Homo sapiens: one gene and its partners. The protein of the gene in region 4 interacts with the protein of the main gene of each other region in a pairwise test. Each region holds a gene or a part of one and is shown on either strand. Other genes may lie near its edges. The genes, in order: GOLM1, SLC7A1, SLC26A1 and ST6GAL2.

What was found.
Region 1: the proteins of ST6GAL2 (region 4) and GOLM1 interact in binary tests that used the Homo sapiens proteins (3 or more experiments, as listed by UniProt).
Region 2: the proteins of ST6GAL2 (region 4) and SLC7A1 interact in binary tests that used the Homo sapiens proteins (3 or more experiments, as listed by UniProt).
Region 3: the proteins of ST6GAL2 (region 4) and SLC26A1 interact in binary tests that used the Homo sapiens proteins (3 or more experiments, as listed by UniProt).

Annotation. Positions count from the first base shown.
Region 1 is NC_000009.12:86,075,559-86,082,578, forward strand, and holds part of GOLM1 (Golgi membrane protein 1), read right to left. Parts: intron 3,784-7,020; 5' UTR 3,763-3,783; coding exon 3,634-3,762; intron 2,034-3,633; coding exon 1,854-2,033; intron 1-1,853.
Region 2 is NC_000013.11:29,508,898-29,515,692, forward strand, and holds the end of SLC7A1 (high affinity cationic amino acid transporter 1), read right to left. Parts: intron 5,687-6,795; coding exon 5,583-5,686; 3' UTR 517-5,582; downstream 1-516. UniProt on the Homo sapiens protein: High-affinity, low capacity permease involved in the transport of the cationic amino acids (arginine, lysine and ornithine) in non-hepatic tissues.
Region 3 is NC_000004.12:990,400-998,217, forward strand, and holds the start of SLC26A1 (sulfate anion transporter 1), read right to left. Parts: upstream 3,006-7,818; 5' UTR 2,902-3,005; intron 2,537-2,901; exon of another isoform or gene 2,322-2,536; intron 1,332-2,321; 5' UTR 1,305-1,331; coding exon 729-1,304; intron 1-728. UniProt on the Homo sapiens protein: Sodium-independent sulfate anion transporter. Can transport other anions including bicarbonate, thiosulfate and oxalate by mediating sulfate-thiosulfate, sulfate-hydrogencarbonate and sulfate-oxalate anion exchange.
Region 4 is NC_000002.12:106,883,168-106,891,053, forward strand, and holds the start of ST6GAL2 (beta-galactoside alpha-2,6-sialyltransferase 2), read right to left. Parts: upstream 3,001-7,886; 5' UTR 2,926-3,000; exon of another isoform or gene 2,700-2,925; intron 2,070-2,699; exon of another isoform or gene 2,008-2,069; intron 1-2,007. UniProt on the Homo sapiens protein: Transfers sialic acid from the donor of substrate CMP-sialic acid to galactose containing acceptor substrates.

The DNA of each region.
Region 1 (7,020 bases), on a different chromosome or scaffold from region 4:
AAATCACACAGCTGAGGGAACTTTAAACCCGGGTCTGCCTGACTCACAAGTTCCATGCCTCCTACCACCAAACCACAGCTAAAATCCTCCTGCAGCTAAGGTTTGATGTGAGAACCCACCCTTGCTCACCAAAATGAAAAGACATTTATATCGCATATTCTAAAAGAGAAAAACTGTGGAAACAGATTCTCTTTTCAAATAACTACTTGATGCTCTTTTTTTTCTTTTTCTTTTTGAGAGATGAGGTTAAAGGGGATTTCAGGAGCACAAAAAGCATATCTCACCAGTAAGAAAAGGGAAGAAACATAAAGAAGCACTTTATTACAACAACATTATGCACAATTCCCAGAGAAGAAATATGAGCTTGCAAATATAGGAAAGTACTCTGCAAATTAAACAACAAAAAAAGTACTTCTTGAATTTTAAATCAGTTATGCGAGAAAAGTCTGAGTCCCTTCCTGGAAATAATTCATTTTCTGAGACAATTCAAGATAATGGAAGTTGAGCTACAACATTCTTCCAATAAATTAGCCACTCCAGAGAGAGAGGTACACGCATTATAAAAGCCAAATTTTTCAGGCCAGGTGCGGTGGCTCATGCCTGTAATCTCAGCACTTTGGGAGGCCAAGACGGGTACATCACCTGAGGTCAGGAGTTCGAGACCAACCTGACCAACATGGCGAAATCCCATCACTACTAAAAAATACAAAAAATTAGCTGGGCGTGGTGGCACATGCCTGTAGTCCCAGCTACTTGGGAGGCTGAGGCAGGAGAATTGCTTGAACCCGGGAAGCAGAGGTTGCAGTGAGCCAAGAGGGCGCCATTGCACTCCAGCCTGGACAACAAGAGGGAAACCCCATCTCAAAAAAAAAAAAAAAAAAAAAAAAAAAAAAAAAGCCAAATTTTTCTAGTTAATAATAGAGGCCAAAGTTTGATGCACTCTGGGACAGGAGATATTAGTAACTCACACAGTTACACAATTTAATAAAGAAAGTATAGTCATATATTCCTACATAAGAAAACCAGGCCGGGCACGGTGGCTCATGCCTGTAATCCTAGCACTCTGGGAGGCTGAGGCAGGTGGATCACGAGGTCAAGAGATCGAAACCATCCTGGCCAAAATGGTGAAAACCCCATCTCTACTAAAAATATAAAAATTAGCTGGGCGTGGTGGCAGGCACCTGTAATCGCAGCTACTCAGGAGGCTGAGGCAGGAGAATCGCTTGAACCCGGGAGGCAGAGTGAGCCAAGATTGCACCATTGCACTCCAGCCTGGGCGACAGAGCCAAACTCCATCTCAAAAAAAAAAAAAAAGACACATAAAGCTTAGATATTTTAATTAGCAGGAAGGCCCCTTTAAATCTACGCAGGATTTGTTGGTTTTTTTCCTAGCTTAAAAGCAAGGGTGCAGTCCCCTACTTTCTCTGTTAGTATTTAGTAGAGTCTGCCTCTCCTCTCCTCCATTAGATACTTGGAGGGCACAAATATTATTTTTCTCTGAGATATAAGCACCTGGCATAGGCCTGGCACAGAGTAGGTATTTAATACATGTTTGTGGAAAGTGGGAAGAAAAAACCCAATAGGAGAAAAAAAAAAGCCAATAGGAGGATGAATCTGAAATTGTTCTTCTGCATTTCTCCTGTTTATTACCACTGCAAAAGGCTTCACCGCAAGCCCAGCCAGGGACTTGGAGGGGAAAGGGAGAGAATGCCCAAAGCTTGATCAATAGGCTCTTTCCACATAATTACATAAATCTAAACCCAGCCGCTTGCTCATCCTCCCGCCAAGAAGAAACAGACAATGTAGACACCATCCCTTAGAAAAGAACTGAGAGGAAACAAAGCAGGCCTTGCCTTTTCGTCCTGGTACAGCTTGTTGACGCTCTCCAGCTGGAAGTTGTGGCTGGACTGGATTTTGTCAAGCTGCTCCCGCTGCTTCTCCAGCTCTCCCTGGAACTCGTTCTTCTTCAGCTCCACGGCGCCTCTCTCTGCAGCCGCCCTGCGGACCCTGCCTTCCAGCTCCATGATCCGTGTCTACAAGGAGACCGTGGCATTAGGGCTGATGCCAAGTTACCTGAGGAGCCTGGACCACCTGAGCGCCCTCCACAAAGACCACCTTGGGGCCCAGGGCCAGCACCAGTCTTATACACACAAGTGCCCAAGGCTGTGTTTTAAGTCAACTGGACAGAAGCTGGAGCGGTTTCTTCTGGAAAAAATGGTCTCTGTCAGTGTAAGTGAAGGAAGGCTCTGTGCACTCACACCACACTTCCCACTGGGTTTTTGTGAGGCTTAAATGTGCTAAGTGCACAGAATGCCTCATGCTTTACCTGGCATAAGATGATGCTCAAATATTTAGTTCTTCTTCGCTGCTAACAAAGCACTTAACAACTCTTTAGCAGATACAATTTCTGAAAACAGATTCAGTTCTCCAACTCCAGACAAGCAGACCTCATCTGCCCAGAGAACAGGAACTCCCGTGGAAGCTGAGACACAGGGAGTACAAGCCCAGGAGGGTAAGTGTGAGAACAGGACAGAGCACAGACGTGCTGGGGTGCCACGGCTAAGCCCATGCAGGTTGGAATCCCTGCTCCACCTCAACCTCTTGGTGCCTCAGTCTGACCCCCTGTGAAATGAGGAAAGTCAAGTCCCAGCCTTGTAGGGTTTGTGCACAAAAGGAGATAATTTGTATAAAGTACTGTGAAAGAGAAATTATTCTGACATTCATTAAAATGGTAAGAAAGACTATTCAAAACGATTGCAATAGGAGAGGGAAATTGTGCTCAATGCCGAACACATCAAAGACAGCTAGGGATTTATAGCCAACGAGCACAGTGCGGGGAGTCAGTGGATGGAAATCGCCCCCAGAGTAGGGGGATTCTTGCTAAACTGGCCTAACAAGATTCTTGCTAAACACAGGCCAAGGACTTAGACAGCAAGGGTAGGGATGAGGAACTTGGTCAAGGATCAGGGGTAGAAGGATGGCTTAGCGGGATCCTTTGCTAGGACTGGGCTGGGCAGGCCAAAGACAGGCAGTGAGAGTTGGGAGGTGCCAAGATCAAGGCCTAGTCAAGAAGACGGCTCAGAAGGGCCCGACTCAAGTTCAATCAAGAGGAGCATCTTTGTCACTGCTCAGCACTGCACCTGACCCATGACTGCACCGGTAAATGAGGAAGTTAAAATTATTATTATCATTAAGTAATGAAGATAAAGATTGGTACCTTTAAAAACATATTTCTTACACCCATCATCCAAGCACACTTCCAATACTACTCTTCGATATCTTGGGCGCCGGAGGACCGCAAACAACGGACTATGGCCAGTGTATGTAAGCAAGCTGTCTTCCCAGAACCACCCCAGTAGCTCAAATGAATGCTGTTAACTCACAGGAAAGGCAGGGAGGGATACCACAACCGCAATCCTACACAACCACAGAGGGGACCTCTCCCACCCAAAGCTGCTTGGGGTCTGGCCCAGGGCTGTGGGGGTGTGCAGAGCCCTAAACTCACCTTACAAGCGTGTGCCCTGCACAAAACGCCCTGGCTGGCAATAAACAACAAACCCCTGGGACCCCATCATAACAAAATAAACAAAACATAAACATAAAATAAACATAACAATAAAGAAAACAAAACACCTGGAGGTCCACGCTCCGGGAGCTCGCAATCCAGTAGTTGAAGCCCAAGACGATGATGCAGGCCACCAGGGCGGCCAGCACGAGGGGCGGCGACTTCATGCTGCGACGCCCGTTTCCCAAGCCCATCATCTCAAAATCAGCGCTGAGAATCTGCCAAGTAAAAGCAAATAAATAAACATCAATACTAGTTTTATCATCTCCGAAGCAGACCGTATCATCCTTACAACCAAGAGGAAAGGAGTCTTGCCAAGAAGCGTGGGCTGGTAGCTTCTCCTTGACGTGCAAAGCTGTCAAGGGAGAAGAGTATGTGAACGGCACGCACAGAGCCCATGGTGCTGTGAACCCAGGGCAGTGTGGCCAGTTCCCAGGACAGGCTCGGAGGAGCAGGCACCGCCCCGAAACCTGCCACAGATTAGCTCGAGACCTGGGGCAAGACATGATTCCTCTTACACTTCAGATTCCTCCCTTGTAAAATCATTACCATACTCACCTTCCCGGCATAGTTTGAGAATTAATCATTTCTGTAAGCAGCAATGTTTGAGAAGTAATCATTTCTGTAAACACCAATAACAAATATTAAGTGCTTCCGCATCATATTAGAAAGAGTATATTCCTCATTACTCCTCAGAGAGAGCTTTTTGCTTTGATTCCTAACAAGGGAGGTTTTTTTTACCCTTGACAGGATTACTAATGACACCCAATTAAAGCATTTCTCAAGCAAAGCAGGAAACCCATTCTGGAGGTGAATGTGAACTCCCCCCCATGTACATCATTATTCAGGCACAGCCCTGGCTATAGAAGTGTCTCCTCCTTCATGACACACAACGGAAGTGGGAGGTGTGCCATCTGCCTGAAGTCACCAGGAAAAATGTGTTCCATCTTAGGATTTGAGGTGGAAACAAGGCATTCACTCCATGCCAAACGAGAGCACCTTCTTTCGAACATTCATTTCTCACTTTAGGGACCGTATCTGTGCAACTGCTGCATTGTACACCTCATGTTAGGAAAAACAGTGCCTCTGTGTGAGAGCTACAGAGTGCACAAAAATACAGCTTAGAAGAAAGATGCCATAAATTTTGTTAATGGGCTTCAATTCAAAGCCAGGTCTGCCTGGATGCAAGCACTGGTCTCTAGGAACAAGGAAAGTAGACTTTTCCAAATGGCTTTTCCCAAGCCAGATAAAACAGAACCTTATCAGAGTGAGCGTGGCTGCACTGCAACAAACAGCCTTTGAGCACAGAGAGCCTTTTACACCAGGGGTGTCTAGCAACAGAGGAGGAAAGGGGATGGTGGGCAAAAAAGACAAGGGACGGGTAAGGAAGAGGATACCACCAAGGATTCACCTGCAAAACCCAATTCTCACCAGTGAGAACATGGGAGAACTGATCCTCACCCTATGGTCTTTTCAGGTGGGTCACCAAAAGGCTTCTTTTTTCTTAACAGCTAGCTACTAGTATGGGGGCCTGCCAGGGGATAAAGAAGCAATCTAGCCGAATCATCTAAAATAAAGCACCCCCAGAATTCCCACGGGTGGAAATTCTGACCTGTGCTCATGTCTTACCAGCTTCTGGCCTCTCAGGATGAAAGGGGAAACCACGTTTTTCTTTCAATTATCAGCTGATATCAGCAAGCACTGAATATACTCAAGAGACTCTTGATCACAAGAGTCTCTTTTTTGACTCTTAAACTTTTTAAAATTTTTGTTTATTTATTTTAGAGACAGGGTCTCTGTCGCCCAGGGTGGAGTCAGTCACGCAATTGTGGCTCACTGAAGCCTCAAACTCTTGGGCTCAAATAATCCTCCTGCCCTCAACCTCTCAAGTAGCTGGGACTACAGACATGGGCCACCATGCCCAGCTAATTTTTTAAAACAATTTTTGTACAGACAGGGTCTCACTATTGCCTAGGTTGGCCTCAAATTCCTGACCTCAAGTGATCCTCCCATCTGGGCCCCTCAAAGTACTGGGATTACAGGTATGAGCCAGTGCACCCAGCCTCAATGATTTTTTTTTTTTTTTTTTTGAGACGGAGTTTCGCTCTTGTTTTCCAGGCTGGAGTGCAATGGTGTGATCTCAGCTCACTACAACCTCTGCCTCCCGGGTTAAAGCGATTCTCCTGCCTCAGCTTCCCGAGTAGCTGGGATTACAGGCATGCACCACCACGGCCAGCTAATTTTGTATTTTTAGTAGAGACGGGGTTTCTCCATGTTGGTCAGGCTGGTCTGGAACTCCCAACCTCAGGTGATCCGTCTGCCTCGTTCTCCCAAAGTGCTGGGAATATAGGCATGAGCCACCGTGCCCAGCTAACCTTGTTTTTAAAATATAAAAGTACAAATACAAGAGGGGGTGGCAGGGACTTTTCCAAATGGCTTTTGCTAAGGAAAAAATAGGAAACTACACACAGTAGAGTATAAATTGGTCGGGTGCAGTGGCTCATGCCTGTAATCCCAGCACTTTGGGAGGCCAAGGCAGGTAGATGGCCTGAAGTCAGGAATTTGAGACCAGCCTGGCCAACGTGGTGAAACTCCATCTCTACTAAAAATACAAAAGCAGCCAGGCATGGTGGCACATGCCTGTAGTCCCAGCTACTCAAGAGGCTGAGACAGGAGAAAAGCTTGAACCCATGAGGCGGAGCTTGCAGTGAGCCAAGATGACACCACTGCACTCCAGCCTGGGCGACAGAGCGAGACTCTGATTAAAAAAAAAAAAGAAAAAAGGATAAATTACATCCCCCTCATCCTACTCCAAAGGAAAGGGATAACATTTTCTAACATCTGGGTCCTTCTGTTCCAGTGGTCCTCAACACTCAAGGGGCATCAGCATCACCTGGGACACTTTTTTTTTTTTTTTTTTTTTGAGATGGAGTCTCTCTCTGTTGCCCAGGCTGGAGTGCAGTGGCGTGATCTAGGTTCACTGCAAGCTCCGCCTCCCAGGTTCATGCCATTCTCCTGCCTCAGCCTCCCGAGTAGCTGGGACTACAGGCACCTGCCACCACACCTGGCTAATTTTTTGTAGTTTTAGTAGAGACGAAGTTCCCCCATTAGCCAGGATGGTCTTGATCTCCTGACCTTGTGATCCGCCCGCCTCGGCCTCCCAAAGTGCTGGGATTACAGGCATGAGCCACCGTGCCCAGCCTGACACTTTTTAAAATATCAATACCTGGGCTCCACCACTGCATTTCTTTTCTTTCCTTTTTTTTTTTTCTTGAGACAGGGTCTCACTCTGTTGCTCAGGCTGACACACTCACTCTGTCACCCAGGCTGAAATAGCTGCCTAGTGGTGTGATCCCAGCCTCAACTCCTGGGCTCAAGTGATCCTCCCACCTCAGCTTCCCCAACTTCCTGGGCTCAAGTGATCCTCCCACTTCAGCTTCCCAAGTAGCTGGGAC
Region 2 (6,795 bases), on a different chromosome or scaffold from region 4:
TAGTGCAAAAATGGATCCTTTCTCAAGGGAGTTGAGGGAGTGAGATAGTAACAATTACCAGGATAGCTACACTCCCCGACAGCCCCTCCGCCCTGCATGCACTCTGCTCCCTCTAACAGGATAGTGTATGTGCAGGCCAGCACAGACTGGGGCGGCAACAGGTGAGGGCGTTTTGTTGCCAGAGACCAAGTCCTTCAGCAAATGCCTGACAACTGGCAGCCTCTGAGCTGCTTTATCCCAACAGCTTGGTTGGAAGGAAGACCTCTGTGGCCCCAAAGCCAAATAAATCTGCAGACAGTATCAGAGATCCAAAATGGGGGCTCAAGGGATTCTCTGGTTGAGGCTCAAATTGTTGGAATAAGGATTTTCCCCAAATGGCTACAGGAAAGTGAGAAGATAGGACTAAAGTCACGGGCTGTGGGGAAGCAGAGCGGGATCTGGAACTCTCCATGGGGCACTTCCAGGCCTGGGTCCCAGGAGAGACCCACTAGGATTCTTGAGATCACACCATGCACATGGAAGCCATAGAATTTATTCGAATTTGCAGAAGCATGAGATAATGTACCACAAAAGAGTTTGATTTTACAACATAAAGTATGGTAGGAAGTGGTCAATGTACACAGTGTTGTCAGCAAAAAGGGGAGGCAGGGCAGTTTCACATTTTTTGAAAGGTGGTGGACGACAACTACACTTGTCCTTAAAGTAAAATAAAAGCAGGAGAGACCCAGCAGAGACCAACCTGATTTGCAGTTAGCATCAGAATCTAAATCTAGTATCACAACTTTAAGAAACTAAAAGAAAACTATTAGAAAAATAGAACATCAAACAAGCAAAAAAATATACAAATGTACATAATAAAAAACACACAACTCTTAATAATGGCTCCATGTTCAGTAGAAGAAAATATTTACTGGAGAAACCACAGCTATTCAGGTTTGATAATAAACCAACCCTCATTGGTATCATTACCCTTAGTGCTCCTTAAACTCATTGAAGCTGAAAGGCACAACTTAAGCAGGAAACTTATCATCTTAAATATATATTATAACTTCTCAAATGGGAAAATAAGTCCCAAACTTAATAGTCTGTCATCAAGAAACACAAAATCATTTGCCTTGTTAATAAATTAACAGTCTGAGTGCATCTTTCCATCCTGCTTCCTGACCCTGCTGGACACACTAATAAATACCCTGAGAAAATCTTCTCTTTAAGCTTGGCCAAGGTACTCCATCTCCTGTGGGGTTTTCAGCTGGCACTCAGCACATTTGTAGAATGACCCAGGAGGGCTCCATGGCAACTGTGCCCCGAGACTCCAGGCCCAGCCGGGTCCCGATGGCGAGAGCGTTGTGGCTCAGTGAAGCACTGGCACAGAAAGGCTGGACTCGAGGAATCGAGGGGTGAAGATGGAGTCGGCTGACATTTTTTGCCTTAAAAATACATTAGGAGTCATAAGCGTGATGACACATGGAGTGTAGCTTCTTGCACCACTGGATCAACAGTAATCAATTTCATGACTCGGATAAGGTCCCCAGGAGCCTGGCAGAATGTACATCTCCCTCTCCCTTCAGAGCCTTACATATAATCTTCTCATGACGATGGCAAACAGATATATTTTAAATTACACGTAACAATTATACATAGTGTATATCCAGATCCGTCTGCAGGCGAACTCTGCATCAGTTCCACATATAAGCCTCACGCCCCCACCACCCTGCAATTTCCCCGTCCTCGGAACTGTCTCACGAGACCACCAGCGCACAGACACGAACATGCCTCTCACACACCCCAGAACGCAGCTGTGCTGGAGTTGGGCACAAAGGCCCCTCACTCCCTGTCTTCATGGTGTGGGTTCTTGGCTGCCAACAGAACTGTCAGCCTTTATTAAGAAGGAAGGGTCTGTGTAAAAATGGGATGTGTGAATCAGAAGAGGGGCCCTGGCACAGAGCCAGGCAGGCTTGCTTTAGCATTGAGTCCTGCGTCGCGCAATGCCCAGGACCTTGCCTGTTAAGTCTGGGTGGGGCCCCTATGGGGCATGTCCACGTGCCCCCCACCAGACTCATTGCCCTGTCTCCAGTCTCCACTGTGGGTTGGGCTGGAGGCCATGCCACGTGGGACTGCAAACACCAGCCAGTTCACAATGCCTGCTCCGTGGCAGGGGCACGGCAGGGAGGAGCTGGTATCATCAGCGTTTCCACCCATCTGAACAAAGGTGAGCGGGCCATGCACCCTTCCAGCTGTGCACAGGGATGTGCTGAAGGTGCAGGAGGCAGTGCGTCAGGGCCTTGGTGGCTGGGGTAGGTGGAGAAGCCCGCTGCCCCCACCATCCTGCGGTCACCCCTGGACTCGTATTGGATCCTGGCCACTGTGCTAGAGTCAGCACAAGGGACCAGGTGGCTGGCTGCCTGAGAGAGAAAATAAGTCACAGTGGAAAGAGTTTTTACTGCTGCAAAAACCAAAAGTGGGGGGAGATCTCAGCAATTCTGACAACAGTATACATTTAGCGACCTTTCTGAGACAGCCTGGGGAAAATGCATCTATCACTGTCCTCTTGATTTGGAAAAATAAATCCGATGCATAAAGCCTTGGACAAGGGTGTGTGAGCAGGGATGATAAGTAGAGTGGGGGGTGTGTAGAGGCCTGGTCTCCTCCGGACGGTGCCCCTCCCAACTGCAGAGCTGCCCTCCTGTAAGCCGGCTCCCGAGCCAGCTGCCAACAAGGCCCCCACTGCCTCCCTGGAGACCCACTTCATCCCCCTCTTCAGCAGAGGTCCTGAGGCAGGGGGGTGGAGATCTGCTGGGTTTGCTGCTTCATGAATTTGGGCCTTCGGAGGTCATGAACACATGCAGGGCAGTCACAGGGGTTGTGGGAGACAGGAAGGGATGTTTACCCATCACAAATGGGTCTTTCCAATGTGGGTATTTGTGGCTGGTGCACAGATAAAAGTAGACACAATACTCCTTGGTGGGTGTGCCTCTAGTAATGTGTAAGTTCTGACTATGTAGGAAAATCCTGGCCAGTGGAACTAAGAATATTCTTGTTTGGGCAAGGGAACTAAGAGATGTGAAACTATCATTTTTTTTTTGCTTGTGTGTATTTTTATTTCAGGGAAAGAAATGAGGGATATGATAAGAAAAAGTCTATTAAAATTGTAAGGCTTACTCCAGACACCATTGCTTAAATCACTCCCCTCTCACACAGAGAGAAAACCCCTGGCAAGTGCACAAAAACACTACTCATAAAAGCACGGTGACCAGTGAACTATTATGCAAGGCACCCCCACGTGTCCTTTCCTAACCAGGAAGCCCGTCCTCTAAGGAGGGGGCATGGGTCCCATCCCTGCCCAGCCTAGGCGTGCTTCTGTGTCCAGCTTTAAGGCCTCTGCGTGAGGAAGGCCACAGACTCCCAGCTGTCAGCACGCTGTCATGATGAGACTTGGAGCAGGGGAGACGCACCTTCTCAATCTACAAAATGAGCCATGGCGCCCATTAAAATGTCAAATGTCAACTCTAAATAGTCTATTGGGTGCTGTCTTGCACGGAAATCTCAGCCAGAAAGAAAAACTAGAGAAAAGAAAAAAAAGAAAAAAGCAATTCTCTCCCACCACTTCACTTTTCTTGGAGACTGTCTATCCCTCGAATTCTCTTTGCCTATGTAGAAAATAACGGAAAAAAAAATCAAGCAAATAACTACCAGGTCCTAAGACAAGAGACAACCAAAACCCCAACAAAATAAGTTAGTATTTATCAAAATATGTTACAACACCAATCTCCATAAATGTCAATATCACTCTTTGGAAATCGGAGCTCTGGGCTCTTATGATGCTCCCTCTGGAACATTCAAAATGAGATCAGAATAAAGCTCCCAGCAAGGTGAGCAGGCCTGATACGGAGGCTCAGCCCATGGCCATCCACCCGCCCTCCACCGCCGTGTTCACAAATTCTTGCACTTCTCTCCAAGAACCTTCTGGGGGCACAGGGAGGGTACAAGTGCCCTCAATTTATCAGGCTTCTTTCTACCAGATTTGTGTCAAAGGCCAGACTAGGAAGAAATGGAAAGGAAACTAAGTTTTGAAAGCAGCATTTCCATTTCCCCTGGTGTCCAAAATGCCCACATCCCTCCTCCTCCCCCATCAGCATGGGCCTTCTGTCTCCTGAAGTAGACTCAGTGGAACGCTCCACCCACGTTCAGGTTTCCTCTGGCTCCCATCTACAAGGAGTGTGTGTGAAATGGTGCTGGCCGCAGGCCCCGACCCAGGCAAGACGGGGGTGGCGTGCACTGGAGCTATGGGGGTGGGGAGGATGCTCGGGTCTCTCCCACTTGCAGAGGCGTGGGGTCCGAAGCATCCGGATGACAGATACACAAAAGGGACAGCAATATGCCTAGAAATCACCTCCCCTGCGACCCACGCATCTCAGCTATAGGACAGCCGCAGGGGTGATGACATGGCCATTTCCAAGTTAATGTTATGCCCTAACTTAATCTGGTGGAGTGTCACAATTTCATGGACTGTGGATTGATTTCAATTTCATCATGTCACAGAGAGGCCAGACAGCTTATGTCAGGGCCAGAAACGCATGACCCCGACATGTCCTGACCCCAGACTGAGCTGCCACCAGCCTTGAGAACCTTACAGGAGCCACCAGACTGGCTCCAAAGCATGGGAGGGCAAGACTGAGTGAACGGTGGCGACTCACAGGAAACAGACTTCTGACTCGGCCACCATGGGGCCAGTCCTGCAGATACTGTCTCATGTTCCAGTTACTCAGGACACAGCCAGTCGGGGGAGACGGCAGGAGCAGCAAGAACTGGCCCAGGCCTGGAGGCCGTGAGCTGAAGGTCCCTGGTTTACATGCATGTGCACACACATGCATAAGCAAAGCAGGCCCTAATGGGAGTGATCCCTTCTTCCTCATTTGAGTGGAGCCAGCTGCCCTCAGCCCCGGGCAGCTGTCATGGTGTCAGAGCAAAGCCCTGAGAAGCCAAGGGGCAGGCAGGGTCCGGCCCTAATGACCCATCTGAATGCAACCGGAGAAGGACAACAGGCCTGATTTTCCTTTTTAAGTGCACTACTGTCATTTGGCTCTGGGGTGGGGAGCTGCTGGGGACACACTGTTTTGTGGTACTCATCTGGCTTGATTGCTGGGTGTCTGGGGCTGAGCGGGAAGATGGCTGCGAAAGTTTGGAGTATGCACAATTTCAATCCCAGAACAGTCCCCGGGAGGAAGGCCTGGTTCCCAAGATAAGGAGAGAAGGTGACCTCCGTTCTGCCTGAGGCTGCGGCAGCTCGGGGCTGAGCTGGTAGGGGAGGAACTGCTTTGTTCAGAGAAGTGAGGAGACACAGTGGCCAGCCGCAGCCTAGTGGCCCCGGCCAGGCAGCTGTCTGGAGGTGACCAGGGCCCGGAGAACCGGCTGCAGAGCCGAGGGTGGGCTGGGGCTGCAGGTCAAGTAATTGCACCTTTGGCTGCAGTGAGGGTGTGGACGCAGGTGGTTTCTGTTGCACTGGTGGGGAGGGTGGGGTGCCTCCCGGTCCTCTGGGGGCGTCCCTCGGGGCTGCTGCCACCTCCGGGGGGCGGGGCTGTGCGTCACTTGCACTGGTCCAAGTTGCCGTCAGGAGTCCTTGCTTGGTCGGCATCCAGGGACGCCTCCTCGCTGTGCCACAGGCCATAGCCAAAGTAGATGATGAAGCCTGCGGGCCGACAGCAGAGACGGGCGTGAACAGACCGCCGGTTGCACCACCGCAGGCAGGGCTCAGAGCCCAGGGCGGTCCCACAGCAAACCCTCTCAGGCGGCCTGCCCCTGCCTGGCATGAGCCCGCAGCCAGCGGCCCCTGTGACCTTTCCACATCTGGAGCAGCTGCCACACGAAGGCCACTGTCTGCTTCGACATCTGGCAAAGCCCTACGTTCCTCTGGACGGCCTTATGCTGCGGTGTTTCCTGAGCAGACAGAGCAGCTGGGCCAGGGCCACCAGAGGCCATCGGGTCCTTCAGCTTAGCCCCCTGATGCCCCCGGAGGCCACGAGAGTATCGAGAATGTGCACTATGGAGATGGGGTTTCCCGCAGGTGCTGGAGGTCTCCAGGCTCTCAGCCTGGACAGTCCCACTGCCCATTTCTCCACATAACTGAGCGTCAGACTGCAGGAGACACTGAGCCCCAGGAATGGACTTCACATAGGAGTCCACAGCCTGTTCCTGCACACGGGACTCCAGGGTGGGTCCAGGACCTATGCTTCTTACCACCTGCCCAGGGGCTGGGGCCACCTTGTGTGGCTGACACAGGAAAACAGGCCTTAAAGCAAGGACTCAGCCACCCACAGCCCAGGAAAGGAGCTCAGGCTCCTGCACACAGGGACTTTGACAGGGATGCTGGGAAGAGGCGCCCCTCTGCCTTCACCAGGCCTGGAGGAAGTGGCCAGTGAGCTGTGAGCAGCTTTTTCTCAGAAAGGCTCTAGGAGACGTCTGTCTAACAGGCTGGACTTTGCAGGGAATGAGGACCCACCCGGCTGCCAGCAGACAGTGGGCCGCAAAGTATTTCCTGGAGGAAAAGCACCCCTCGAGGGCCCTGGGAGATGAGGCAGCAGCCATCTGCCCGTAGCATGCAAACTCAGGGCTGCGAGGCTGTAGGGACATGGTCCTGAGGGGCAATGGCCAGGGCCACTTTCCTGGCTATCAGCACTATGACTCAGATGCTGAGGGGAAGGAAATGAGATCCTCCCCTCCAGCCCCTGGGGTGAGATGCCCAGAGGCGTGGGACTACAGGCTGCACCCACCCCTGGTGATCTATCTCATGTGGAAGCT
Region 3 (7,818 bases), on a different chromosome or scaffold from region 4:
CGGGAGCCACCTGCCCCTCACCAGCACCTGGCATGGCCCGAGGGGTGGTGGTCACGGCACAGGACCTGACAATTCTGTGTTGCGGCCCCGTGTGTTCCAAACCAGACTCCTCACACGGGCCTGAGTTCTGGTTCCACGCGTGCTCATGCCCGCAGACAACTGTGACATCCACGTGAGCATCACACGTGCACACAGCTGGCCATAGACACGTCTAACCCTTGTCACGTGCAGCAGCCCGTTTTATTTCAGAATTAAGACCTCTGGTATCAGAAGGCAACCCCTTCCTGCTGCTTCCTACACATGGTGCCCACTGCCCCCCATGCAGATGTGGAGCCAACGGGGGCCAAGGTGGACAGGCCAAGGCAGGAGACCTTCGGGGGTGGGGAGGCCATCCCCCACTCCACCTAGGACAGAAGGCCTGGGAGGCCACATGGCCTCAGTCCAGCACCACTGAGCCACAGCCACACCTGGCCTGCTGGTCCCCACCAAGGCCATGGCCCACCGGACTGGCTCCCCGTGCCCCTCCCCTCCTGCATCCACAGCCTCTCCGCGTCGGTGCCTCGCCCTGGGATGCCCCGGCACGCCCCAGCTCTGCCCAAGCCTTGCTGTCTTGGGCCAGCACCTCCTCTGCCAACCCTGTGCTTGCCCCCAGCCTTGCCCTCGTGGATGGCCAAAACCTAAGGGGGGGTGCCCTGGGCCCCTCCCTGTGCCCAAGCAGGGCTCCTCACCTGGTAAAGCCCGGTCATCAGCGTGAGGGCGGTGGCGACACGGATGGCGTAGCAGTCACGCCCGCAGTCCAGCATGGCAGCCGAGCCGTTGAGGGTGCTGCTGTTGGCTCCGGGCTGCAGGCCGTCCTGGGAGGGGTCAAAGCCGGCCAGCTGGAGCTCCCGGTCCACCACCTGCCCCACCATGAGGCAAAGCAGGCTGAAGATGCCCACGGAGACATGCCGTGAGGTGCCCATGAGGAAGTAGATGAGGTTGGCGAAGAAGGACGTATAGAGGCTGTAGATGGGCTGCAGCCCGGCCAGCAATGAGTAGGCGATGGCCTGCGGCACCAGGATGATGCCGATGACCAGCCCAGACATGACGTCGCCTGCCAGGTACTCCCGCGGGCGGTACTGACGCAGCCAGCGCGTGGCGGGGAGCAGGTCCTGCACCAGCGCCCGGACGCACAGCACACTGCACGAGCAGCTGCACCACAGCCTGGCCTTCAGCATCTCACGCAGACCCCGGGGTGCTGGGCGCTGCCGTCGGACCGGCACCGGCCCTCTGCCCTGCTGCAGAGGCTCAGGGGACTCGTCCATCCTGTTGCGTCAGGTCCCGTGGCCGACCTGCGGCCGAGAAGAGGGCATGGTCACAGGAGCCCCCGGATCCAGGGCCAAACGACAAGGTCCCCGGCAGCAACGGGCCCCTTGGGGCGGACCCCTCGCCCACCCAGGGCCGGGGATTGGTGCTGGGCCTTCTCCTGGCAGCGCGGGCCCCAGCCCCCTGCCCGGTATGGATGGACGCTGGGCCCTGCTGGATCCAGAATCCATCGTGAGGTGAGATGGGATTACGACACCAAGCCCATGCCATGGGGTGTGCTGAGGCCAGCAGTGCTGAGGGGCGGCGTGGCGGCACCCTGTCCAGGCTCAGCTCCGGCCTATTGGCTCTGCGGTTCCTGGCTGAAAACCACCCTGTAGCCTCCTGAAGCTCACCTCCCCAACGGGGCAGGAACAGGCTGGGCTGCCACCACGCACATGTGCCTACCGTCAGAATGTCACAGTCACTGGACACAGGTGCAGGCAAGCCTGAGTCCAGCTGCTCCGTGTCCACCTCCCTGGCTCCCCAGGTTGGCAAACGGTCCTGCTGTCCACCCCATGCCCACACCAGAGCCCTCCCTCCCCCATCCAAACCATCGCCTGCTCTCCTGGAGACACCTCCACCCACCCCTCTGTCACCTGCCCTGTGGGTCCTGGGGCTGGCGGAAGTCTCAGGAAGAGGCCTCCTATGTCCCTGCCAAGCTTTGTGGGTACTGGGACCCCAAGTCTGCTGGGGGAGCAGCACTCAGACACTAGCCTAGCCCATCCGCCTGGACTTGGGACAGAATTCTGAGAATATGCCTGGACGGGGGCCCCATCAGGGCCAGCTGGGAGGGGAGGAGGGTGACTGGCGTCTGTCTCCCCTGCCCAGACAGTTCTGGGACGTGAGGCGCCCTTTTTCCCAGGCTGCACCAGCTCACTGTGGAACGGCCATGACACACTGTCCCGAGGCAGCACCGAGAGGGCCCAGCCCGCTGCACACAGTCACCCTGGGCCGGCAGAGCCGGAAGGGCACCTGACCTTTCCCTTGATCTCGGAAAACACCGTGGCGTTAGGGAGGCGGTGCTTAGAGGCCTGACTGGTCCCACGTGAGGCCTCGGGTCTGTCCTGTTTGCAGACTCCAATGTACTTTCACTTTAAACATTCTTCTCAGCGACGTTAGGCAAAGACTTTGCTCCCAGGACACCAGGTGCCCAGGACACCCTGGAGCCTGGGCTGAGCCTGCTGTTTGCACGCTGGCCCAGGGTGTGCGAGCTCCAGTCTCCTGGCGGGTGTGTTGGGGCAGTGAGCCCAGCCTGGTAGGTTGACACATGCAGGCTGGGCACAGCACCCCTGGGGCACAGAGCGGGGGTCCTGGCCCTCAGGCAACATTGCAAGAGTTGTGTCCCCTTCCCTGGAAGACCCCACCACACTGGGTCCCTGGATGCCCTGAAGCCCACCCCAAGCCCCTGGGGTCCAGGTGTGTGGAATGGGGACAGTAGGGCCACCTGCCTTGAGCCTGAGGGTGCCCCTAAGAAACCACGAGTCCAGGGCATTTCTGGCCTCGGCTCCCACGCCCCCCTCTGCTGCAGCTGAGATCTGGGCCCAGGATGGTTCTTACCTGAGGGAGTCCTCACAGGCGCGGAGGGCCCTGGGATGACGAGGGGCTGGCAAGACCACCGAGGACCGCAGGGCCCTCTGGCTCCCGCGAGCAGCGGGGAGAGTGGGGGTGGTGGCGCCAACCTGCAGGCAGTGGTCTGTGCCCTGGACTCTGTAGTTCAATTATTTACCTACAGATTGCTGAGTCATGGGTTTCTCCAGCCATGTTACCTGATCGGCTGATCCGGGAGTTGAACTGTAATCAGGGGCTTGTAGGAGTTAGAGCTGTGTGGGCCTCTGAGGAGCTCCCAGCCTCCCAGGAGCCGCTGCAGCTGTGGCTCTGCGGCCCTGCCGGGGGGGCTTAGGGACCAGCGGGAGGCGGGGGCTCAGGGGCTGAGCACAGGTAAACCTTCAGCTCTGGGGTCTGGGGTCGAGTGCAGCAGCCTTCAAACCCAGGCGGGGCTGAGGGAGGCTTGGTCTCCGTGTCCAGTCGCCGGACACCCTCCTGGTCCTGCAAGGAGCCAGCCTGGTCCAAGCTGGAGCAGGGCAGAGGCTGACAGCCGGCTCAGCCCAAGGCTGCCGGTGCGTGCATATGCGTGTGTGCTCGCGTAAGCCCTGTGTGTGGTGCTCACCGCCCAGGGCGAGGACTGCCGGGGTCAAGGTGCCGTGACTGGCCAGGAGTCCTGGTCTGACTGGACCCAGCACCGACCCACAGCGCCTGGTCACCCTCACGGCTCCTCTGCCCTCCCCTCTACCACAGACCAGGACCGGCAGTGCCTGCCTCATAGGGCTGGGGTGAAGATAAATGATTTTTTTAAGTGAACTAAATTAGGCCCACACGTGAAAATAAGGGTAAGCTGCTTTTTAAAAGGAATTATTAGCCAGGCACGATGGTTCACTCCTGTAATTCCAACACTTTGGGAGGCCTAGACAGGAGGATCGCTTAAGGCCAGCAGTTCAAGACCAGCCTGGTCAACATAGTGAGACGCCCCCCACCTTTTCTTTTTTTTTTTTTGAGGCGGAGTCTTGCTCTGTCACCCAGGCCGGAATGCAGTGGTGTGATCTCGGCTCACTGGAAGCTCTGCCTCCTGGGTTCACGCCATTCTCCTGCCTCAGCCTCCTGAGTAGCTGGGACTACAGGCGCCCGCCACCGCGCCCGGCTAATTTTTTTTTTTTTGAGACGGAGTTTCGCTCTGTTGCCCAGGCTGGAGTACAGTGGCATGATCTCGGCTCACTGCAAGCTCTGTCTCCCGGGTTCAAGTGATTCTCCTGCCTCAGCCTCCCGAGTAGCTGGGACTACAGGCACCCGCCACCACGCCCGGCTAATTTTTTGTATTTTTAGTAGAGACGGGGTTTCACCATGTTAGCCAGGATGGTCTTGATCTCCTGACCTCGTGATCCACCCACCTCGGCCTCCCAAAGTGCTGGGATTACAGGCTTGAGCCACTGCACCCGGCCGCCCCCTGCCCCCCAACCTTTAAAAAATTAAAAGTAAAAAATTAGCTGGGTGTGGTGGTGTGTGCCTGTATCCCAGCTACTCAAGCGGCTCAGGTGGGAGCATGGCTTGAGCCCAGGAGTTTGAGGCTGCCATGAGGTATGATTAGGCCACTGCACCCTATCCTAGGCCACAGAGCAAGAGCCCGTCTCAAAAACAAACGCTGTCATTGGCCCAGCACTTTGGGAAGCTAAGGTAGGAGGATTGCTTGAGCCCTGGAGGTCCAGGCTGCAGTGAGGTATGTTTGTAGCGCTTCACTCCAGCCTACAAGTCTTTTTTTTTTTTTTTTGAGATGGAGTCTCGCTCTGTTGCCCAGGCTGGAGTGCAGTGGCACAATCTCGGCTCACTGCAGCCTCTGCCTCCCGGGTTCAAGCGATTCTCCTGCCTCAGCCGCCTGAGTAGTTGGGACTACAGGCGTGTGCCACCACGCCCGGCTAATTTTTGTATTTTTAGTAGAGACAGGGTTTCACTATGTTGGTCAGGCTAGTCTTGAACTCCTGACCTTGTGATCCACCCGCCTCGGCCTCCCAAAGTGCTGGGATTACAGGCGTGAGCCACCGTGCCCGGCCAGTTCTGTCTCAAAAAAAAAAAAAAAATTCCTTGGGAGCCTCAGGTCCCCCCGACTTTGACAGTGAGTACTGGGTGGGAGCCTGCACGGGGCACCTGTGGCCGGAGGGTGAGTGTAACGAGGGGCTGCAGCCCTCAGTGCTCTCCCATCCCAAGGGAGGCCAGGAGGCTGCGGTGGGTCCCTCGGGTGGGGCTGGAAGGCCAACCCGGCCCTGGCACCTTGGGCAGCCTGACTCTGTCCGGGGAACAGAAGCCACAGGCTCTACTTCTCCTGTCCATGTGGGATTGAAGCCGAGGGTCTCGCAGAACCAGCTGATGTGCCGGGGCTCCATTTCCCCAAGACGAGGACACTGACATTGATGGGGCACAGCCCCGGAGGGAGGAGACCCTGGACACTCACCCCACCAAAGGTACCTCCTTGTGGAAGCCGTCTGCCAAGCGCTGCTAGTTCCCCACAGCCCTGGGTGAGCCCAGGGAAGACTGGGCTGCAGTGCCCCCATTTGGAGGTGAAATGGGAGTGGAATGTAGTTGGGATGGCCAGAGAGTAGGAGACATCCTAAGTGTGAGATGTGGACAGGGCTGAATGCTCCAGGGTCTCGTACCCCAGAGTGTGAGATGCGGGCAGGGCTGAACGCTCTGGGGTCTCGTACCCCTGAGTGTGAGATTCGGGCAGAGCTGAACAGGCTCCAGGGTCTCATACCCCCATAGCCTCCACCTGGGATGCCCTCTCCAAGTCTGATTTCTCCTCGAAGCCCCTGCCCTGTCCTCCAGAGTCTGAGCCCTTGCTTCCACCCCAGCCCAACCTGGGCCCCAGTGGTCCCTGGGAAGCAGCTGTTTGCTCAGCAGTTGGGAGCTGTGCTGTAAGAAGCGGTTGGCCAGTGGGTGGGGTAAGGCAGTCACGCAGGGCCTCAGGTCCCTCCCTGGGACAGATAAGGGCCCCTCTGGGTGCAGCCACCAGCAGGGTTGTTGGAGAACTGGGGAGACCCAGGGGGCTGGGGTTGTTCCCTCAAGGTCTCCCTAAAGGAGGCAGGGAGGACCTGGGTGCTACAGCAGGGGTGGGGCACCTGGTGCAGACGCCTGCATGCAGGGTGGGGTGGGCAGTGCCACCTGGGGCCACAGAAAAACCTGGAGTGGGAGGTGGCCCTTCCCCCCTCAGGAAAGGTGGTGGAGGTTTCCAGAGGCTGGCTTATGGGGACCTGTGGTGAGGTTTTAGGCAGGTGAGCGTAGTTCAGGAACAGCCTCAGCCGCACTGCAGGGGCCTGGCCTCAGGTCTTCTGCAGGCATTGGGCCTTATGCCCTTTTAGTCCCCACCTAGGCTGGGTGTCTAAAGTAGGTGAGGTCATCACTGCAGGATCCTTGGGGCCTGACCTGCCCCCTCCCACGTGTCTCTGCCTCAGTTTCTCTGAGCATTGAGGCAGTGGCTGGTGCTGTCCTGTGGCCAGGCCCAGAGGCTGAGTGCCCAGGGGGTCCAGGGGCCTTGCTGGCCAGAGAGAGTGGGTAGCCCATTCTACCCCGAGCCTGTGCACGCGCAGGGCTGCCAACACCTCCTTCCTTCCCCGCTTGGCCCACGCAGGACAGGGGGCGTGGGGGCCCCAGCAACTGGGACCTGCCTGAATCCGCCTCCCTCCTGAACCCCCCTCCCGCCTGAACCCCTGGCCAGTCTTGTGTCACACGCTTACTTCCTTAGTTTTGTCTTTAAATCAGCCGTTTTACATTGGAGTCCATTTACTGGGAAAGGAGACCTTGCATCCTTGCCTCCCACCCGTGGGAAGAAGCCCGGCCGACAGGGCTTTGAGACCGGACCCGAGTTTATTCCCAGAGACCCTCCCGCGGGTGGGCGAGCTCCGAGGTCTGGAGAAGAGGAGGCCCCGGCCCGCACCCTCTAGCACCTGTGTCCCCTTCGTCCCGGCCACAGATGCAGGTTCTCCCAAGAGGCGGGTCTGTACCCGCCCCGCGCCCCCAGCCCAGCGGGCCCGGCCTCCGCCCCTGCCCCGCACTCCCACCCCCACCCTCAGGAGAGCGCGGCCCTGCTCCCCACCCCGCGCGGTCTCCCCCCACCGCCTGCGAACCCCCATGCACGCGCGGCCCCGCCCCGCGCACTCACCAGGCCCGGCAGCCGCGCGGTCTTAGCGGCTCACGCGCTCGGGCCCAGGGGCGGGGACGTGGGGACCCGGGCGGCCGCTCAGCCGCGGCCGCGCGGTGAATGAGCCCGTTGTGCGGCCGCCGCGGCCCCAGCGACACCCCGCGCGGGGTCTACAAGGGCTGACGCGCCCCCGCGGCTTCCGTTCCCGGGCTGGGCGGTGGCTCGTCTGCGTCTCCGGCCCTGGGGGTGGGCTGCGCGCTCCATCTCGCCGGCCCAGTCCCCTCCCCAGCGTCGGTCTCTCAAGGCCCCTCCCAATGGGGGCCAGGCGGAGGGTGGGCCCTCGGGCCTGTGGACTGACCCCGGGGTTCCTGGGCCTGGGGGCGGGGATCCCTGTCCCGGGCTCCCCTCGCTGCGAGGCTGGCCCTGCCAGATGACACTCAGAGGCGCCTTGGGTGTCAGGCCAGGGACATCTCTGATGCTGGGGCTCCCCCCGCTAGGGTCAGGGGCTGCCGGGCTATCGCCTTGGGGTTCTGCAGAGAAAACCTGAAGCCCAGCTGGGTCTTCACTTTCCTCCAGGTCACCGTGCCCCGCTACTCCAACTCCGTGGGACTTTGGAATGCACCTTCTGGGCATTTAATTCTTATCCAAGTGCCTCTTAAGTTATACTTCTTTGCTACCAGTGTGTCCTTTGGATGGAGGGGAGGAGAGGTGGTAGGGGCCGGGTGGGGTGGACCCCAGGGACTCCTGCTGCTCCTGCTGGACACCCAGCCCGGGGTACAGGAGCAGGTGGGGAC
Region 4 (7,886 bases):
TTTTGAATTGCAACTGTTCCCCTATCAATTCAATGGGAGGGGTGGGAGGTGGCTGGGACCAAGCAAGGGTAAATTTCAAATTTTGTAAGGGGCATAATAAATCCGTGTTTCTCTAACACTGATATCTTCGCATTGTGTACTTAATAACATTTAGAAAGAAATTTCTCAAAAGTTGGAAGGAGAGCTTTCGGAAAAATGGTAGGTATATTAAACTGAAAATGTGGTAATCCACTAACAGTGGCTGGTCATCTACAGCCCATTCAGTGTTTGGCATTGATATCAAAAATTGGTGTAAGAACATTGAAAATTTCTGTGCAAATATGCATCTGTGTTTCCCTTCCACTTTCCAAAATTAGTATATAATTATATGCAATTGTTACTTTTATAGTCATTTGGGAATTTCATCCCATTTTTTTTAAGGGATGAGATTTCAGATTTCAATGCTTAGAAAATCAAAGCTTAACATACACCTGCCATGAGGGTACTATCTGATTCCCTTAGACATTTATGCATGCTGAATTAAGTACTTAATTTAATTTAAGCAATTAAATTTTAAGATCATATTACAGAAAATCCAGGAAAAGAAAAAACTCAATCAATCAGGAATAACACAATACATTTAAAGAGCAAATGCATTAACAAAGACTGTCCTTATTATCATGCATAAGATATTTTTATTCAAAGTCTCACCCATGAGGTAGCAATCTGCAAACTAATTAAGAGCTTCCCAGAGGACAAATATCTCCAAGTTTTTGGAAAGGAACCTATCATTTATTTACCTAAGAAGGAGTGGCAGAAGCCTAGAAATCAGTTTGTCTTTCAGAAAAGATTTAATCATTTGAGAAATGCTTGGATAAATTCTAAACCTGGAGGGTAAAATTTCAGTCAGTATCAGTATAAGCAATAGACCAGAGCCTCACACACTGAAATCATCTCAGAAAGAAGAGAAACTCGGGGGTGGGGGGGTGGAACCTCCAGAAACAAGCACGTACAGGAATTTTTTCAGCAGTCCCTTCGCTATTTAATCTTTGCTGGCTGGATTGGCCACAACTCCCTAGACTCAACTTATGTCTTCACCCCACAGAGTAAACCTTTTCCCTCTTAATTATCCTCATCAGAAACTCAACACAGATAACTGCCCTCTTCTGCATAATAAATCATTCACATATTTTCAAATGTTAAATTGTCTCAACTTTGAATCCTCTAGTCTAAAAATCCTGAATTTTGTATCCTTGCTTCCTAGATCCTGTGCACCACATAGCAAACTCACCAAATGTTGGTCCTTGCTCTGACCTCACTCTTTCCAGGAGTATCCATCCAAAGCCTCTCTAAACTGTGGAGCTCAGTACTCCATATAAAGCAGTGACTCCTATCACAATCTCTACAAGACATTTAACTCAAAACTCCAGAAGCTTTCACAGCACCAAGCAAAAATGTAAGATGCTACCATTTGTATCTATTGCGGCAAAAATTGGATAGAGTGCCTTTTTAACTTTGCAGTAAAATTCAAGGCACTTCACCTATTATTTTAGACTTTCATCAGTTTTGAGCACAATATCCATTCACCTTTGCCAACAGTTTCTTTTAATGCATTAGTACAAAATTCCTCAAGTGGTATATAAAAATTTTGGTTGTCAGTTCCAGAAAAATAATGGGGGAAGGAGAGTGGGTAAAAACAGGTTCAAGGCCACACATCAGTTTTCCTTTTAAAAAAAGTTTTAACCCTAAATTTGCAGCGCATATATATATATATATATATATATATATACATACACACACACACATATATACATATGTGTATGTATATACATATACATCATATATATATAGCACTTCACTTTATTGGAATTCTTCCTTGGTCATAAATTATATTTCAAGTTGGCAAAAAATGTTGATCAGAATTTCAAAAAAGGGAAGCATCAAAGTAACCAGCATGGGGTTTTTCAAGTGTGCAGAAAGTTCTCTAAATACAAAATGTGCTTCCAGCCCACCAAAGACCCCCCTCACCCAAGCAGGCAGTCCTCGGCGAGGAGGGTCAGCATGCCCCTTTATGGTCAGAACGGCAGTGGTGCAAAAGACAATGATTTCAACCAAATATGGTTTGCCTCTCGCCAAATTTTTCGCATGTCCAATAAAAATAAGTTCACAAAAATCCAGCCAAGCATTACTTTCCCCCCAAAAGTGCTTCTCAGATTACAAAACAGCTTTGAAAGTTCAGCCTGACAAAACAAATATGGTACTAGGAGGAGAGACCTGGAAGGCAATCACAAAAAGTCTCATTTAAATTCCTGGAAAGCACAGCTTCTCCAAACACAGCTATTCAGCTCTTTGGAAGGCAGCACTTGCGGGAGCCATTGAGTTTAACTTCACTCAGTCCCCCAACACAGAACCGGCAAATCCGAATGAGATGGACGTCACACTCCCTACTCAAAAGAATGCATCAAATATCCACTCCGTAACACCGCGGAAAGTAAACCCAAAAGCGGAGTTTGCCGCCTGCCAACTACATAAGAATTAACACTCGGGTATTTAGGATTCTAAAGATCCCTACTACCCCAAACATTATAGCCACAGAGAACCAGAAATGAACAGAACACACTTTAACCTTTAAGAAGTGCAGTTTTGTACGGGGGTTGGCTGAAGAAAGACAAAAATCTTCACTCCCTTCCAGAGCCAAAAGAGCCAAAATAAAAGATCACCTTTACTGAGCCACAGGGGCACAACTGTATCCGCCCGTCCCCAAAGCGCAAGCCGTCCTCCCGTTCGCTTCTCCAGAATTTCCTGCTTTTCCCCAAACCACCTTCAACATTCCCCACACACGGGTCTCGCTCCTAAACACGGAGTGTAACTCCGCGCACAGCAGCGCGGAGGCTGCAGCGCCACCAAGAAAGGCGTCGCCAACCCTTACCCAGTGCCCTCCCTTACCAGCCTTCTTCCCACGCCGCGCCTCGAAGCGCACGACACCGTGGTGCTCGGTGCTCCCCCTGGCAGCGCGGCACTGGAGTCCAAGGCGTGCGTGTCACATTTTATTCCCCGGCAGCCGCTCGGGTGCGCGCGCTACGCGCTCCCACACTCACGCTGGCGCCCGCTAGAGCTGGGACCCTGGCCGGGGTCCCCGACTCACGCCGCGGAACTTGGGGGCTGCAGAAGGCGAGTGCGCGGCGGGAGTCGTCCTGCCGCAGGCTCGAGTCCTCCTCCTGCCACCGTGGGGTCTCGGAGCTGCCCCGCGCTCCCGTCCCAGGCGGCCTGCGGGATCACCTCTCCGGGGCCAGCGCTGCTCCGCGCCGGCGGCAGCTGCAAGCGCGGGCGGCGGGGCACAGCGGGTGGCTCGGCCTCAAAGCCGGCGGGAGGCTACGCTCAGCCCCGCGCTGCACGCCTCATTGTTTCGGGCAGCGCGGCGGCGGCTCCCGCGGCCAGAGGAACCGCGGCCCCGAGCCCCGGGGAGAGGCGGCGGTTCCCGGCCCACGCACCGAGGCTGCGCCGCGCCCCGCCCCCGAGCTCCGCTCGCCCCAGAGCCCCCTCCCTCTCCGCGATCCCTTTCATCCTTCCCGCTCCAGGCTCACCTAGCTGGCGGGAGCCGGGCACTGGGAAGTTGGGCTGCCCCCTCCCCGCGCCCCCGGCCCGGCAGCTCGGCCCGCCGGCGAGCGCAGGCGGGGCGCTCCCTGGCTGCGCGCGGATTTCTGCTTGTCGCGGAGAGTGACTGCAGACTTGGGCTGCGTGGGGCGGTGCGGGGCAGCACGGCTGCCTAAAAAGGCGTGTTTCTCCCCGGCCGCCGCCTCCATCCAGCCCTAGTTCTTCCGAAGGTTACCTGCACAGTACCCGCCTGGCACCGCGCCTGGACACCTCCGGGGCACTCGGGTCCCGGGCGGCGGCAGGAATGCAGGAATGCGCACAGGCTGTGGGCGGCCAGGAGGGAGTCCCGGCGCCTGCCCCGGCGGAAGTGAGTCTTTGTGTACCCTGTCCAACACCTCCCCCCGCCAGCGCGGAAGGCCGGGCTACCTGCGCGCCTGGCAGCGCCTGGCAGCCGGCTGGGTGGGGCGCAGGGGAGCGCAGCATCCTCCCCGGCTCGCTAGCTCCCTTTGTTCATCTCGCTCAACCAGGCTCCGCACTGCCGCCTGGCCCTCGCTCCCAGAGCTTCTCTAAGGATATGGGATGGACTTGGGAGCGGGCCACCTTTCATTTGGGAAGGGTAGCTCGCCAAGTCCGGTGACGGTGCTCCCTGGAGACCCCCACCTGCCCGCCCCTCCACACTGCCGGTCCCCAACCCCAAGAGGGACGGAAAGTTCTTGGGGTAGAAGCCGGCGGGACAAGTGGTTGAAGCAGCCTCCGGAGCCAGTGGGCGGCTGCGAGCTGGGCAGCTGGAGCCTGCGGGCGGGGCCGCGGGGAGGTGCCCATCGAGTGTCGGTCTGGTCGCGTGCGGAATGTCCACTTGTCACCGCGGCCCTTGCGTTTTCTCGAGACGGCGGCAGCTGGTCCTAGGACCCCAAACCGCGCCGCCCTTTGTTTGCTGGTAAATACTCTCCTGTGAACTTCAGCGTGTCTCTCCGCGCGCACTCCTGGCATTGGGTGCCCCACCCCGCTGGTTCTCTCGCGGACCCAAAGAGCTGTTCAGGTGTAGGGGAATCCCAGGTAGATGGATAATATTGCTAAGGTTGGGCCCATCTCAGGGGGACTGGTTAGTCACCCCTCACCCCACCCCACACCCTCAGTCGCTAGAAGGACACACGTTTTGGAGACAGAGATCTGCCATTAAATGTATTATTTAAAAATCCGCAAATACTTTTATTCAAGTAATTTAGACTTTTTTTTTAGGGGGGAAAAAGCAATTAACTGGCTACCCAATTCATTCAGCATTCATTAGTGCCTACCTTAGCCTGGAACTCTGAGCTAGACAGTGGGCGCCCAGAACTCCCTCAAAGAGTTTACAGAAATGTAAAACAGCACGGGAATTAAACTAAAATCGAGTGGGTATAATGCACTGTGTTCAAACAAAAGTGTGGGCCGAAAACGCTTACTCAGTATTTCCCCAATTGTATTAATTATGTCTGACACATGGAATTCTGCGGAACTGCCTGAATGAACAATGTGTTACACAGATATTTTTTAAAAAAAGAAAAATTATGGCCGGGCGCGGTGGCTCACGCCTGTAATCCCAGCACTTTGGGAGGCCGAGGCGGGTGGATCATGAGGTCAGGAGATCGAGACCATCCTGGCTAACAAGGTGAAACCCCGTCTCTACTAAAAATACAAAAAATTAGCCGGGCGCGGTGGCAGGCGCCTGTAGTCCCAGCTACTCGGGAGGCTGAGGCAGGAGAATGGCGTGAACCCGGGAAGCGGAGCTTGCAGTGAGCCGAGATTGCGCCACTGCAGTCCGCAGTCCGGCCTGGGCGACAGAGCGAGACTCCGTCTCAAAAAAAAAAAAAAAAAAAAAAAAAAAAAAAAGAAAAATTATATTTTATAAATGTGAAATACATACAGTGTGGTTAAAAGTGACCAAAACAAAACAGAAACAAACAACCTGATAGAGACCCATAGCTGGTGGGGATAGAGAAAGGAAATACTGCAGAAAGACTCACCTTCTTAATAGTAGAGGGGCGCAGAGGGGGTTGCAAAGTCTGTGGGCTTCTGTTTCTCTTCTGTATAATGGATGTAATAGTACCTACCTTCAGCCTGGCGCGGTGGCTCACACCTGTAATCCCAGTACTTTGGGAGGCCGAGGCGGGCGGATCACGAGGTCAGGAGTTCGAGACCAGCCTGGCCATAATGTTGAAACCTGTCTCTACTAAAAATACAAAAATGAACCGGGCGTGGTGGCAAGCGCCAGTAGTCCCAGCTACTCGAGAGGCTGAGGCAGGAGAATCGCTTGAACCTGGGAGGCGGAGGTTGCAGTGAGCCAAGCTGGTGCCACTGCACTCCAGCCTGGGTGACAGAGAGAGACTCCCTCTCAAAAAAAAAAAAAAAAAAAAAATTATATAGTATCTATCTTCAAGGTTTGTTGTAAGTAGAGAGCATGTGTTAAAAGCATCTCCCCCAGTGCCTGACATGTTATACCTAATAAATTGTAGTAATTAATAAATGACAGTGGCCATTATTAAAACACTTTACCTTGAAACAGAAAAAATTGTACACTTTTTATAGTGTATATATATCTTATACACTTACTATCCTTTCTGCGTAAATACTGCCAAAGTTGATATCTTAAAGAAATTTTAATGAGTTAAATAAAAGTGTCCAAATAACAGTCAACTTTATAGAAGTAGAAAAACTACCATCTTAAGGCAAATATGCAAATTACTGTTGTAAAACTTTAAGTGGATTGAGTTCATTACTTATGATCAAGGTAGTAAATACACAGTCACTAAACCGACTTAAATCTATTGCTTCCCAAAGGAACCACAAAGCCAGTTTATATACAGGAAGCTATATGCTGATGATTGCTTCTGTCAAAGTGTAATGGTAAATAAAATATTTTGGCACCCTTTAGTTTAATTACTCAGAGACACAAGGAGCAGATTATTTAATTATTTTATTGGTCTGTAGATTCATGAGGAATTCCTGAGTACCTCTGGCACTATAATATTATTTTCCTTACAAAATCATCAATAACAACAAAGCACAATAAACTTATTCCTACAGATAGGCAGCATTCAGAAATCCACTTGCTGTTATCCATTTGCTCATAATAATATGAATTTCCTTTCTTTCTTTTTTTAAATTCAGGGTTCCTCAATTCTCCTTTTCTCACCCTGTGTTAACTAACCAGCTGAGCTTTCACAGGGACAATTCCTTCCTGTTTCAGGAACTTGAAGCACATCATGAACAATCAACCAAATCAGGAAGCTCAGTTACTCAGCTGAGAAGCATTCAGGTGGGACAGGGATGAAGAATAAATATCTTCTAACTCCACCATTGGTGAATCTGGGCTATTTTATTTCTCTTACCTATTGTTCATATAAATATATTTTTCTCCCATTCATTATGCCACTCAAATTTCACAATAAAACTATAGATTATTTTACAGATGGGAAAACTCACCGATAGAAACTTTCAGGACCACTTTCTCTAAACAAGTTGCCTTCGTTTTCTGATTTACCTGAGATTTTCCATCTGTAGCATTGCAAAAACACATTGATTTCTTCCCTTGCTTGAGAAATTAGTACCTCAGAAAGGAAAATCTATATCTGGGCTCCTCCTATTTAATCAGTGAAACGAATTTTCATGTGGCCGATCAGTATTTAAAAAAAAAAGAATTTCAGATTCTTGCTTTTTGGAACCCATTATCCACTGACAAGATCAGGTAGAAACATTTGTTTCCTAGCCAACCCATAGATTTTTTTAAAAAAGTAGTTCCCTTTGTCTTTGGAAATGTTCATAAGGAAATAGACCACCATTAGAAAAAAAATGCTTCAGGTATTTGCATATGTATAGGAGACAAAATCCTCGGCCAGCAGGAGCTTCTTCTACCTTTCTGTCAGTGTTTTCAGGTGGAGAGAAAAACATTATTTTTTAGCATCAGATATAGGAATGATGCCATTTTCAGTATCTGCAGTAGGAACAATAAAACCAAAATGCAACTGGTTACCCTTAGGCTTGCTGACACCCGCGCTAGTCTGTGGGCTGCCGTCCAGGAAATAGAGGCTGGCCTCAGAGGCGGGGTCCTGGGGCCACAACCTGACCTCAGCTGGCAATGAGCTGTACCAGACAGAGCAATAGAAAAACATGTCAGTATGTGAAAGAAACTATCCTTTCCTAAACTTCTCCTTGCAGCCCACTATCCAATATTAAAAAGACAGAACTGAAAGTTGGATCTCTGGGTTTTAGTCCTGACTTTGTCCCTTTAGTGATGTTATTTGAACTTTCTGAGTCCAAAGAACCTCATCAGCAAT